Linked DNA regions of Homo sapiens: region 1 is linked to region 2. The links come from fine-mapping of genetic effects on gene expression. A gene starts in region 2. The other region holds a variant in brackets. All regions are shown on one strand. Distances are from middle to middle.

Region 1 (5,356 bases), 29 kb after region 2:
TTAGAGGCCTGCTCCACGCCGCTTCCACAGCATCCCGCAGTCACCCTGGAACAGCATGTGAGCCTCGGCTCTGTGACAGGATGTACCTGTTCAGTCATCTGCCTCCCCCTGAAACATGCCGACTTCCCAGGATCTAGCATAAGGCCAGGCCCAACTAAAGCTACTTGTTGAATTAATGAAAACTGAAGCCAGAGAAAGGTGTTCTGTTAAGAGCACTGGGCCACACATCCCACAAAAGAAAAAAAATGGGCAGGGGGACCAGACAAGCAGGTTCTCCTCTAATGGAAAGAAACAGTAGATGAACCAACAAAAGCTAATGGCCACAAAGATGGTGGTGACTCGCAATACACAACTCACCAACTCACAGCTCATGAGTCACAACAGAGCAAATAAGCCACAACGACACACCATACCCCAGCAGTGGAGCAAAGTTCTCCTCCTCTGCGCTGCTAACATTTGGGCTGGACGGTTCTTTTCGGTGTTGGGGCTGCCCATGCACTGGAGGACACTTAGCAACATCCCTAGCCTCCACCTCCACTCACCAGATACTGGCAGCATTCCCCCCAGTTGTAACAACCAAAAACATCTCCAGATATCGCCAATCGTCCCCCAGGGGACACAATCGCCCCCAGTTGAGAGCCACTGCAATGGACATTCCCAAATCAAATAATAATCGAAAGAACGGCCAGGTGTGGTGGTCCATGCCTATAATCCCAGCTCTCTGGGAGGCTAGGTAGGAGGACTGCTTGAACCCACGAGTTTGAAATCAGCCTGGGCACCACAGCAGGGCACCAGAGCAAGACCCAGTCTTTACAAAAAATACAAACATTAGCCAAGCGTGGTACAAAAACACAAAAATTGAGCAAGCATTGCAGGACGTGCCTGTAGTCCTAGCTACTTAGGAGGCTAAGGTGGGAAAATCACTTGAGTCCAGGAGTTCAAGGCTGGGCAAACGAGCAAAACCCAGTCTCAAAATCATCAACATCAAAACAGCTACTGATTGCAGAGTGTCATGTGCCTTGCATTCTGCCACAGGCTTCTACAAACCCTGCACTTAATCCCTAGATCCACCCTCTGAGGAGAGCAGTCTGCTATCCCCACTTACAGACGAGGAACAACTTGTCCAAGGTCTCGCTTGGCAGAAGCCGGACTCGGCCTAGGTCTGTCTGGCAAAAGATCCTCTAACAATTAGCTGGACTGCCTTCTCATGATCCCAATCCCAGAACTAGAGTTAAAAAAAAAAAAAAAAAAAAAGCATAACATTTTCAACAGCACAAGCAGCTCCAACAGCCATCCCACCACTAGTAAGCACACGTGGCCGGGCGCCGTGTCTCCATGTGTGTTGTGCATGTATGTAAACCAAGTCCTCATCCTGTGTTATCCAGGCAATCTCGAGTCCTTGCTGCATTTGCAGCGCACGCTAACAGTTAGACCCTCGCCCTTGGGCTGGATGAAATCCCACTGCAGTTTCTCTACAACTGTGAACCCAGTACCGCACCTGACAGTCTACGCAGCTTCCTTTCCTGAAACATCTTGCCTTTCAGGCGGGTGTCTATGGTCATGTCTGTGTGTACTACGAGCGAGCAAGAAAGACCCCAACCAGAGGTCCCATTCGAGGCCTGGATAAGCACGCCGGGCGGAACTACTCTGCCCCTCACCCTCCCAATACATCTGCACTCAGGACTCCGACCTTCCTTCCTTGACATATCTGCACGTGCTGCTCCTTCCCCCCCCGGAAGGCCCTTCTTCCCACTCTCCATCTGTCACCTCCTACTCATCCTTCCTAGACAGAAAAAGCCGTCCGTCCAGTCAGTCTCACCAGTGCCTCCCGCTCTGTGGCCCCCTGCAGCTCCCTAAGTCACCTCGATCACGACACGCAGGAATTGTGACTGTCCGGCTCTGCCTTTGTACCCCCTCCAGGGACCGGCCCCACCTCCAGGGCAGGGCCTAGGGCTGATGCCCCCTCCTCGGTGCCCAGCGCCAGGCTCCCTGCCTGCCCTCAGCAGGCTTCATCTCACTGAAGCAGGCCCGAGTGGTGGCTGCTCCAGAGAAGCCCCGCTCCCAGGTCCCTCGCACAAGAAGCCGGAGGCGGGAGAGGGTCGGTCAAGGTGAAAACAAGCCCCGCTCCTCCAGTCCTGAGCTCCGGGGATCTAAGGAGGCTGCGCCACGGAAGAGGTGGCGGGGCAGAGATCGGGGCGAGAGGGAAGGGTGTAAGCAGGCAAAGTCCAGGGTAACCAGGG[A/G]GAAAGACTCCTGGGGGGCCGGGGAACCGGCCAGAGAGGCAAGAGAGCGGAGCTGAGGCTCAGGGACTGGGGAGCGCAGCTGCAGAGAGCGAGTGGGAAAAGGCCGAGAGCAAGAGACTGAGACTAGGGTGGCGGCGGAGCTGAGGTGAAGAGATTAAGAGACTGGGGAGGGTCGAGGGGGAAGAAACGGGGTGCCGTGGAGAGGAAACCCGAAGGAAGGAGGGAAAGGATCCGAAGCAGAAAAGACCCGCGGGGGTCCCGAGAGGGAAAAGCCTGAGGGGACGCGGAGAGGGGAAGACGTGGGCGCCTGGCCCTGGAGAGAGAGGGTCGGGCGACGCGGGCCGCTCACCTGCGAGGGGGGGCGGCGGCTCCTCGCACTCGGGGCTCATCGGGGCGCCCCCCCCCGCCCCGCCGCCGGCGGCTCCGGCCCCTGCTGCGGGGCCCGGTGAGTGGGGGCGGGGGCGGCGTCGGGGACTCGCGCAGGCGCCGGGGCTCGCGGGGTCCGCGCAGGCGCCCGCGGGTCGTGGGGTCCTCGCGCGCCGGGTCCTGCAGAGTTGAGGGGGTCAGCGCCGGGTGGAGTTGCCGACGGGCGGGGGGCGTCACTAGTCCGCGTAGGCACCTCCGGGGTCCGCAGGCGAGGTGGGCGTGCGGGCCGAGGCGGGTTGGCGAGCCGGGTCGCGAGGCCCACGCAGGCGCCTCAGCCGGGAAGACGGGGGAAGTTGCCCCGGTTTCCACAGTCCAACCGAGCGCCCCACGGGAGGGGAAGGCGACCTCCTCCGCGGTCCAAACGGGCCGCAGAGCCGAGCAGCGACCGACGGAAGCCGAGGCCTACTTCCTTAACCACCCCTTCCCCAAAGCCGCTCAATCTCCGGGCTCTGCGGCCGGCCTCAGGGCCTCCGACGCCCGGCTCCCTCCGCCACTATCCCACAATCCCCCTAGCGCAGGACGACGCAGGAGGCCCCGCCCTCCCGCGGCTGTGTTGGTGCGCAGGTGCGGGGGGCGGGGTGCACGCCTGGGCGGTGCAGTGCGCGTGCGCCCGGGCGCTCCCGACACCGCCCACTCTTGAACCCCGCCGCCGCAGACGCGCTTGCGCCCGTTGGTGCCAACGGTCTGCCCCGGAATAAACCCAGACAGCTCAGTGAGCCGCAGCTGCGCACCGGCTCCGTTCCAAGGCCCCGTGAATATTCCGCTCCAGGATTTCCCTTCCCACTCGCTCCGTTTGGAAATCCGTTCGCTGTTCTGTCTCCTCTAATCATAGTGGAGCTTTGGCTCCAGGGTCGGGCTCTTGCGAAATCCAGACCTGGTTTTCGCTCCAGCCAAAGCCAGGCGCCTTCGTTCCGTCCGGCTCTCGCGCTTAGCCGCCTCCGAGCCTCAGAGGCCCTCAGTCGTTTCCGTCTGCTGGCGATAGTCCCGGCCGGGTCGCTGGTGTTGCCAGTTCCGCCCAAAGCAGCTTCTAATAGCATCAACTGAAAGAGACCTCCTAGACCTTGTGTCTAGATTGATGAAGGTCCCTCTGGCTTTGAGCCTCGGTTTCCCCAACTTTAATAGCTCCCCTCTCTACCCATGTTAGAGGCCTACTGTAAAAATCGTGTGGGCGCGAGGAACTTTTTTGTTTTTGTTTTTGTTTTAAGACTCCGAATTGGCCGGGCGCGGTGGCTTACGCTTGTAATCACAACACTTTAGGAGGCCCGAGGCCGGAGGATGGCATGAGACCAGGAGTTGGAGACCAGCCTGGGCAACCTAGGGAGACCCCCGTCTCTACAAAAGAAAATTTAAAAAATTAGTTGGGCCTGGTGGCCCGCGCCTGTGGTCTCAGCTATTCGGGAGGCTAAGGCAGGAGAATCGCTTGAGCCGAGGCTGCAGTGAGCCGGATTGCACCACTGCACTCCATCCTAGGAGACAGAGCGAGAACCTGTCTCAAAAACAAAGGGCCCAGCGTGGTGGCTCACGCCTGCCTGTACTTGAGCTCAGGAGTTCAAGACCCCACGCCTATAATCCCAGCACTTTGGGAGGCCGAGGTGGGCGGATTGCCTGAGCTCAGGAGTTTGAGACCAGCCTGGGCAACACAGTGAAACCACGTGTCTACTAAAATACAAAAAATAGCCGGACGTGGCGGTGTGCGCCTGTAATCCCAGCTACTCAGGAGGCTGAGGCAGGAGAATTACTTGAACCCGGGAGGTGGATGTTGCAGTGAGCCCAGATCAGGCCACTGCACTCCAGCCTGGGTGACAGAGCGAGACTCCGTCTCGAGAAAAAAAAAAAAAAAAAAAAAGAGCAAATTCACCCCTCCTTTGCCCTCTTTGTTCTATTGAGACCCTCAATGGATTGGATAATGCCAGCTCACACTGGGGAGGGAAGATCTTTATTCAGTCTACCGATTCAAATGCTAGTCTCTTCCAGAAATACCCTCATAGACACACCCATAATGTTTTACCAGCTATCTGGACATCCCTTAGCCCAGTCAACACCTGAAATGAACCATCACAGAGAGGCATTTCCTTTTCTCTTTTTTCTATAGAGATGTTTTGTCTTTTACCCAGCATTTGGCTTCCTTGTTTTCTCCACAATATGATGGCATCATTGCCACACTGTTTTAACACAGAGGTCAGGAACTGAGGGATAAGGATGTGGCTATAGTCCCTACCCTTCAAATGGAAGCTGGGAAGCTGTGGGGGCTTTAATGACTGAAGTCTGGATTTCCACCCAGCAGAACTCACAGATATACATTGTGTTTGCATTAGAATTGAAACTTTTTTTTAAGAGACAGGGTCTGGCTCTGTCGACCAGGCTGGAGTGCATGGCACGATCACAGATCACTGCAGCCTCGAACTCCTGGGCTCAAGCAATCCTCTCGCCTCAGCCTCCCGAGTAGCTGGGACTACAACTGGAACTTTTTTCTTGAGACAGGATCTCAGATCCTGCAGCTACCTCTCAATTTATCCTGGATTTAGGAAGAGGAGTGATAAAAACCAATCCAAATAGACTCAAAAATCCCAGATCCACCAGAACAATCCACACAAAAGGAATGAGTCTGACATCAAATTGTCCTAGGAAACCAGGATACAAGAAAGAGGAGGATTGGCCGGGCATAGTGGCTCACACCTGTAATCCCAGCA
Region 2 (5,356 bases):
CGGATTCTTCCCTGGAGCCTCAAGAGGGACCATGGGCCGGAAAACACCCGGATTTTGGACTTTGGGTCTCCAGAACTGCAGGAGAGTCCATTCATCTTGTTTCAAAGCATCTGGCTTGGGGTAATTTGTGACAGCAGCCTCAGGAAACTAACACAAAGACCAAACAGTCCTCTTGGCTCAGTTCTGCACAATCCTCACTTTATCCCCCCGAATCCCCCCACCAGAGGGCCATGGAGGGTCCCACTGGGCACCAGGCCTGGTCCATGGGGAGCGACAAAGAACCTTCTGCTGTCATTAACCGCGATGGTTTATCACAATCATGACCCTCCCCGAGGCCTCTCCTACGGTAACAGCAACATCTACGGTTCCACACCCACAGGGAAAACGGATTCAGAGCAGCAGCAGGGGGCGGGCAGGCTGTGGGGCCGACAGTGAACATGGAGGCAGGCTGGTGGCTGGGAGGGCTCCATGTGGGCCTGGCTGAGGAGCCAGGGATCTGGAGTCAGAACCGGGGGAAGGCAGCTGGAACCCAGTAGTGGACTTGGAATTCCGCAAATCGTCCTCAAACGTCTTCAGCCAGAAGCGACGGCGGCAGCGGCGCCTGCAGACAGGCGTCAGGAAGCTTCGCTGCTGAGGGTATTTCTCAGGCTGGGCTGGGCTGGGAGGCCCAGGTCCTTGCAGGAGGAGAGGGCCTGAACACCGGCCCTTCAAGCTCCCTAGTCAGTCAGTCTTGGGCACCGGGCTCCTGAGGGCTGACAGTGTGATGAGGAGCTGGGCAGCATAGTAGGTGGTCATGATCACCAGGTGGGCATGGGGCAGGGGCTGGGCGAAGGTGTCCCAGGCCAGCACGCCATCAGAGAGCGTGAAGAGCAGCGCGCCCCAGCCGGCACTCCCGCCCTGGGCCAGGCCGCGCCACAGCATGGCCATCAGGATCAGCCCATAGGCTGCCACCGGCAGGACCATATCCGGCTCGAGGTGCTGGAGCACAAGGCTGAGGTAGGGGCCAGGGGCCAGGATGATGAGCAGCAGCAGGCCGGGCTGCAGGGGAGAGAAGCCGAAGGCCCAGACGTAGAGGAGGTGGGCGGTGGCAAAGGCGGCCATGCCTGGCGGGAGAGGGGTGGGGTACCAGTGAGGAAGGCCCATCCTGGGAATGGCCCCGAGGTCACCCCTCAGGGCCTAAGAGAAGGACCATCCCAGAGCACCAGGCCCCACCCTGGCCGAGCCTCCTTGCAGGTCTCCCCACATGCAGTGTCCATCCTTGCTCTGCTCAGAACTGCCAGGAGGCCCCACCTTCCCTTGGCCTCCAAAGCCCCATGGCCTCCAGCTCTCCAGCCACTCTGCGCCAGCCACCCTGGCCTGCTGGGCTACAAGCACCTGACACGTCCCTGCCCCGGAGCCTTTACACTCGCCCTTCCTCCACACAGGCATACAGCCCTTCAGCTCTGCCCAAATGTGACTTCCTCAGTGAGGCCTTCCTCAGCAACCCTGCTTCAAACTGCAGTACCTCCAGCAGGTCCTCACTGCCCTCTGCGCCACCTCAGCTACTGCCCTAACACCGCCTGCCCCCACCCCTCGCTGGAGCGTGAGCTGCCTCGGTCACGGCTGCGCCCCCCACTGTGCCTTTGACCACTGGAGCTCTCACAGGAGCCCTCTGCACCCAGGCTCCCATCCAAGTGCTGGGGCCTCTCTCACACGGGCATCTGGAAAGCGTCACAGCACCTTCCACTCACCAGGGACGAAGGCTGCCGGCCAGATGAGGCAAGCGTCCCCCACAGCCGAGCACACAAGGGCTCCCTGGAGGAGCTGGGTGTAGCCCCCGCTTGGGGACATGACCCACAGGAACCCAGCCAGGCAGAGGACGGGCAGGCACTTGACCAGGGCAGCGAACCAGGACAGCTGGTCCTCGGGAATCCAGAGGCAGAAGTACACGCAGCAGGAGAGGATGAAGGGGCTCAGCCACCTGCAGACATCTGGGCGCTTTGGGGAGTGGGGAGCTACTGAGCCGAAACCCAGCCCAGCCCCCATTCTTGGGACTCAGATCTCATGGCTCCTGTCCCACCCCCACCTGGGACCCCAGCTGTACAGGCTGGACCCATTCAGGGACCAGGCTGCCAGAACCCAGCTTCCCAGGGCCCAACCAACTCAAGGACAGCAGCTCCCAGACCCGCCGGCTGCTGGGGTTCCAGGGCCCTGTCCCCCCAGCCCCAGGCACAGCTCAGAAGGCTCTCACCTGGGCTGAGCAGTGAGTCTTCAGGGTCTGCCCCGCTTTGCCAGCGTCCATGCTGGCCTGATAGCCCCAGAGCGACCTAATCTGGGAGCGAGTGGCTTCAGGGGGTGGAGGGGAGGGCTCATGGTTACACGTTAACCCAAGGAGCGTCCTGTGGACTCTGTGACTGATAACAGGGCCCAGGGAGATGTTGTCCTCACCCTGGGGATGGCCCTGCCTGGCGCCCGCTGATAAAGCACTGTTGGCACTGGGGGTCCCTCTGCCCTAGCCTGCTGGGACATGGCTTCCTCCTCCTATCTGCCTGGGGAGGTTAGGCCCACAAATGCCTGTCCCCTTGTCCTGGGCCCCAACAATCAGAAGAGATGGGGTGCAGAATTCCAACAGCCACCCCATCATGGGAAGCGGGAGAGGGGCTGGCTGGCAGGAGTGCCCCTGGAGGGATGGGAAGGCGAGTCTGTCCTTCACTTGCTGCCCTAGCCGTCTCCCTCCCTGCTCCATGAAACCTTTCCTCATTCTGCTCAACCCCACCAAGCCCTCAGGGGCTCCACCACAAACACTGCTTCAATGGGTGACCAGGAGGGACCACCACGAATGCGGGGAACAAGCACCCTCTCCTGTTAGCTGAGCGAGCCCCCAGGTGACCTCCAAGCCAACTGCCACCCCAGTGAGGACGCTGTCCTCATGGCCCGGTCCACACGCTCCGGTTTCCCAGCGCCGCTCACCGGTGCCACTCGCTGCACACGCAGCCTACACTTCTACCTTCTACCTGAAAGACTCAGACCTACTGGGCGCCAGTACCCAGCCTCAATGCTGGGCTTGGTTACTGGGGGTAAGCAGGGGCAGGAGCAGGGATTTGAGCCTGTCGGTGGCTTCTATCCTCTGCCCAAGGCCCTGCCCACAGGTGGGGTAGACCTGGCAGGAGCCCTCACAGCCAGTGCCTGGCCCAGCCTGGGGCCTCTGCAGCCACAGGGCTCCCTCTGGCAGGACAGTGTGGGGGCAGACTGGGTCAGGAGCACCCCCAGCCTCTGGGGTGCAGGGATAATACAGGCTCCCCACCCCGCATCCCAGAACGTAAGGTCTGACCAGCAGAATCGTAAACTGCCTTCCTTTATTTATATTTGCAATATGAAATAGAAGCTCGGCACAAACGCACGCACACTCACACCAGCCTGGGAGGAGGGAGCTGGGGACAAGGTCACTTGGCAACAGGGCTGGGACCTCAGACCCTCAAGGCCCCTGGGGCTGTTGCCGGGGAGGCCCCTGCTCCCCAGAGCCGGACTGGCCTGGTTGAAAGTGCAGGGTCTGGGCAAAGGCACGGCCCCCACTCGGGACCCTCTGGCACCCCCACCCACGCTGGGCCGTCCCCCATGGTGGACCTGAGCTAAAAGGCCGGGTGTGGGCGTGGCCGTCTGCGCTGCAGCGTGGGACAGCTGGGCACGTGGGTGGCAACCTTGGGACCCCTAACACCAGCTCCCGCTGGGACGGAACAGGGAAGGCTGTGCTTTGGAGCCGCCAGCCCAGTTCGGTGTCCTCACTCTCTCTCGCTCTCCTCCCTCTCTCTATATAATATATAATATATGTTTCTCTCTCTCCATTCTCTCTATTTGACTCTCTGTATCTTTATTCTAGGAGGCAACGCTCCAAAACTTCTCTTCTCAGTGCAAATGGGGGTGGGTTGGGCCTGTCTCCCTGGCACCAGCCTCCTGGGGGTCCAGAGGAGAGAATGTGGGGGTGTCAGGGTGATGAGGGCAATGGGGGCCATCGTGGGACCCGCCCTGCCCCCACCCCGGGAGATCCACGGGAGGACGGAAGATTTGGCCGCCGCTGCCGCACCAGGCAGCTATCTGGAAACAGAGGGAGATGTCGTGTGAGGGTCTAGCAGGCCCAGCCCCACCTACCCAGCCCGAGGCTGCAGCCACACTCACTGGGAGCCTGGGGATGCAGGCCCTTCCGGGGCAGAGCCATTGGGTATCGGAGGAGGCGTGAGGGCCTGGGCACTGTCAGGGGAGAGAGGGGATGTGCAGAGGTCACTTCCTGCCCCACCAGCCCCACCCCCACCCCCCCGCCCTGCTGCCCTGGTGCTCACCTCTGGCTTTGGGGAAGCCCCAAGGGCTCTGGGCTCTTCTCCCCTTCTGTGGTCTGGGGGGGCTGGTGGGCCCCGGAGGCTGGGACAGAGGTAGAGGGGTCTCTGGTTGCACTGTGGGTGAGAGGCAGGTGCGGCTGTCAGCGTGGCCCCCACCGTCACCTGCTGACACCCTCACATCCCACCCGACTGAAGTCGGCTCACTGGGTGTGTGTCTGCCACCTGCCCCACGGGGAGGGGCCTCCCGAGGACGCAGCTGGCTCAGCGTGGAGGGACAGCACAGCCCTGGACAGGAAGACAAGCACCCCTCTTCCCGCCTCCTGTCCCTGTGGAGGAGGTACTCGAGGCCGGCTGAGACAGCCCCAAAGGGTCTTCTGCATGCTCTCACCCTCCCAATCCTTCACACCCTCCAACGAGCCCTTCCCAACCCTGGGGCTCAAGGGCCCCAAGCATCCCAGGCTACTAAGAGAAGAACCAGCCTACAGAGTGCAAGGGGCTGGGGCACAACATGAGGCTGCGCCTGGGGGTCCTGCAAAGGAGGCCTGGAGCAGCTCAGGGACAAGATGAACCCAGAGCCCACCTCAGCGAAGAGGAGAAAAGACTTCTCCCGATACTAGGCAGCCCCACCTCGCTGCTCACCTGTCCGAGGAGCTGGGGGCAGAACGGATCCCGTGGAAGGTGGCCTGAAGGTCCCCGATGCTAACCAAGGCCTGGCAAGGGGCTGTGGGGGATAAGAGATCTCAGCTGCAGCTCCCAGCAAGCTCGGAGCTGGCCAGGCTGCTCTCTCTGCCCAGGGCCGCGGGTGGGCAGGGCAAAGCGGGGCTCACCTGAGGGCTCCGTGACTTTGCTGCCTTCTGTGGCTTCCTGAGGTGCTGAGGGGGGTGTGGGGTCCTGAGACCTGGTAGGCGAGAGAGGCAGCCCAAGGGGGCAGCTAGGGTTAGCACTCGAGCCTATGAGAGGACGGGGACCCCATGGCCACCTCCTGGCCTCGGGATACCAGCACCATTTAGCCCGTTCCATCCGGTTCTCACCTGAGCTGCAGGGCG

What was found. PIP is the estimated chance that this variant, and not a neighbour inherited with it, causes the effect.
Region 1: its variant is fine-mapped to the expression of TMEM86B in unexposed skin (GTEx, PIP 0.97).

The regions. Positions count from the first base shown.
Region 1 is chr19:55,255,846-55,261,201 of GRCh38, forward strand. PPP6R1 (protein phosphatase 6 regulatory subunit 1) reads right to left here and starts at 3,172. Exons shown (of 24, transcript NM_014931.4): 1 at 2,590-3,172. RefSeq lists silencers at 1,252-1,445, 2,630-2,689, 2,860-2,959, 3,090-3,369, 3,276-3,570 and enhancers at 2,420-3,394, 3,400-3,599, 3,630-3,679, 3,760-3,809. The variant A/G (reference allele first, on the strand shown) is at 2,241.
Region 2 is chr19:55,226,461-55,231,816 of GRCh38, forward strand. TMEM86B (transmembrane protein 86B) reads right to left here and starts at 2,303. Exons shown (of 3, transcript NM_173804.5): 1 at 2,231-2,303; 2 at 1,731-1,977; 3 at 178-1,103. The coding sequence starts at 2,281. The coding sequence ends at 721. It overlaps PPP6R1 (protein phosphatase 6 regulatory subunit 1), which reads right to left. Exons shown (of 24, transcript NM_014931.4): 19 at 5,342-5,356; 20 at 5,138-5,208; 21 at 4,950-5,031; 22 at 4,314-4,424; 23 at 4,153-4,224; 24 at 3,319-4,071. The coding sequence ends at 4,068. It overlaps MIR6804 (microRNA 6804), which reads right to left and starts at 4,492; the gene lies at 4,425-4,492.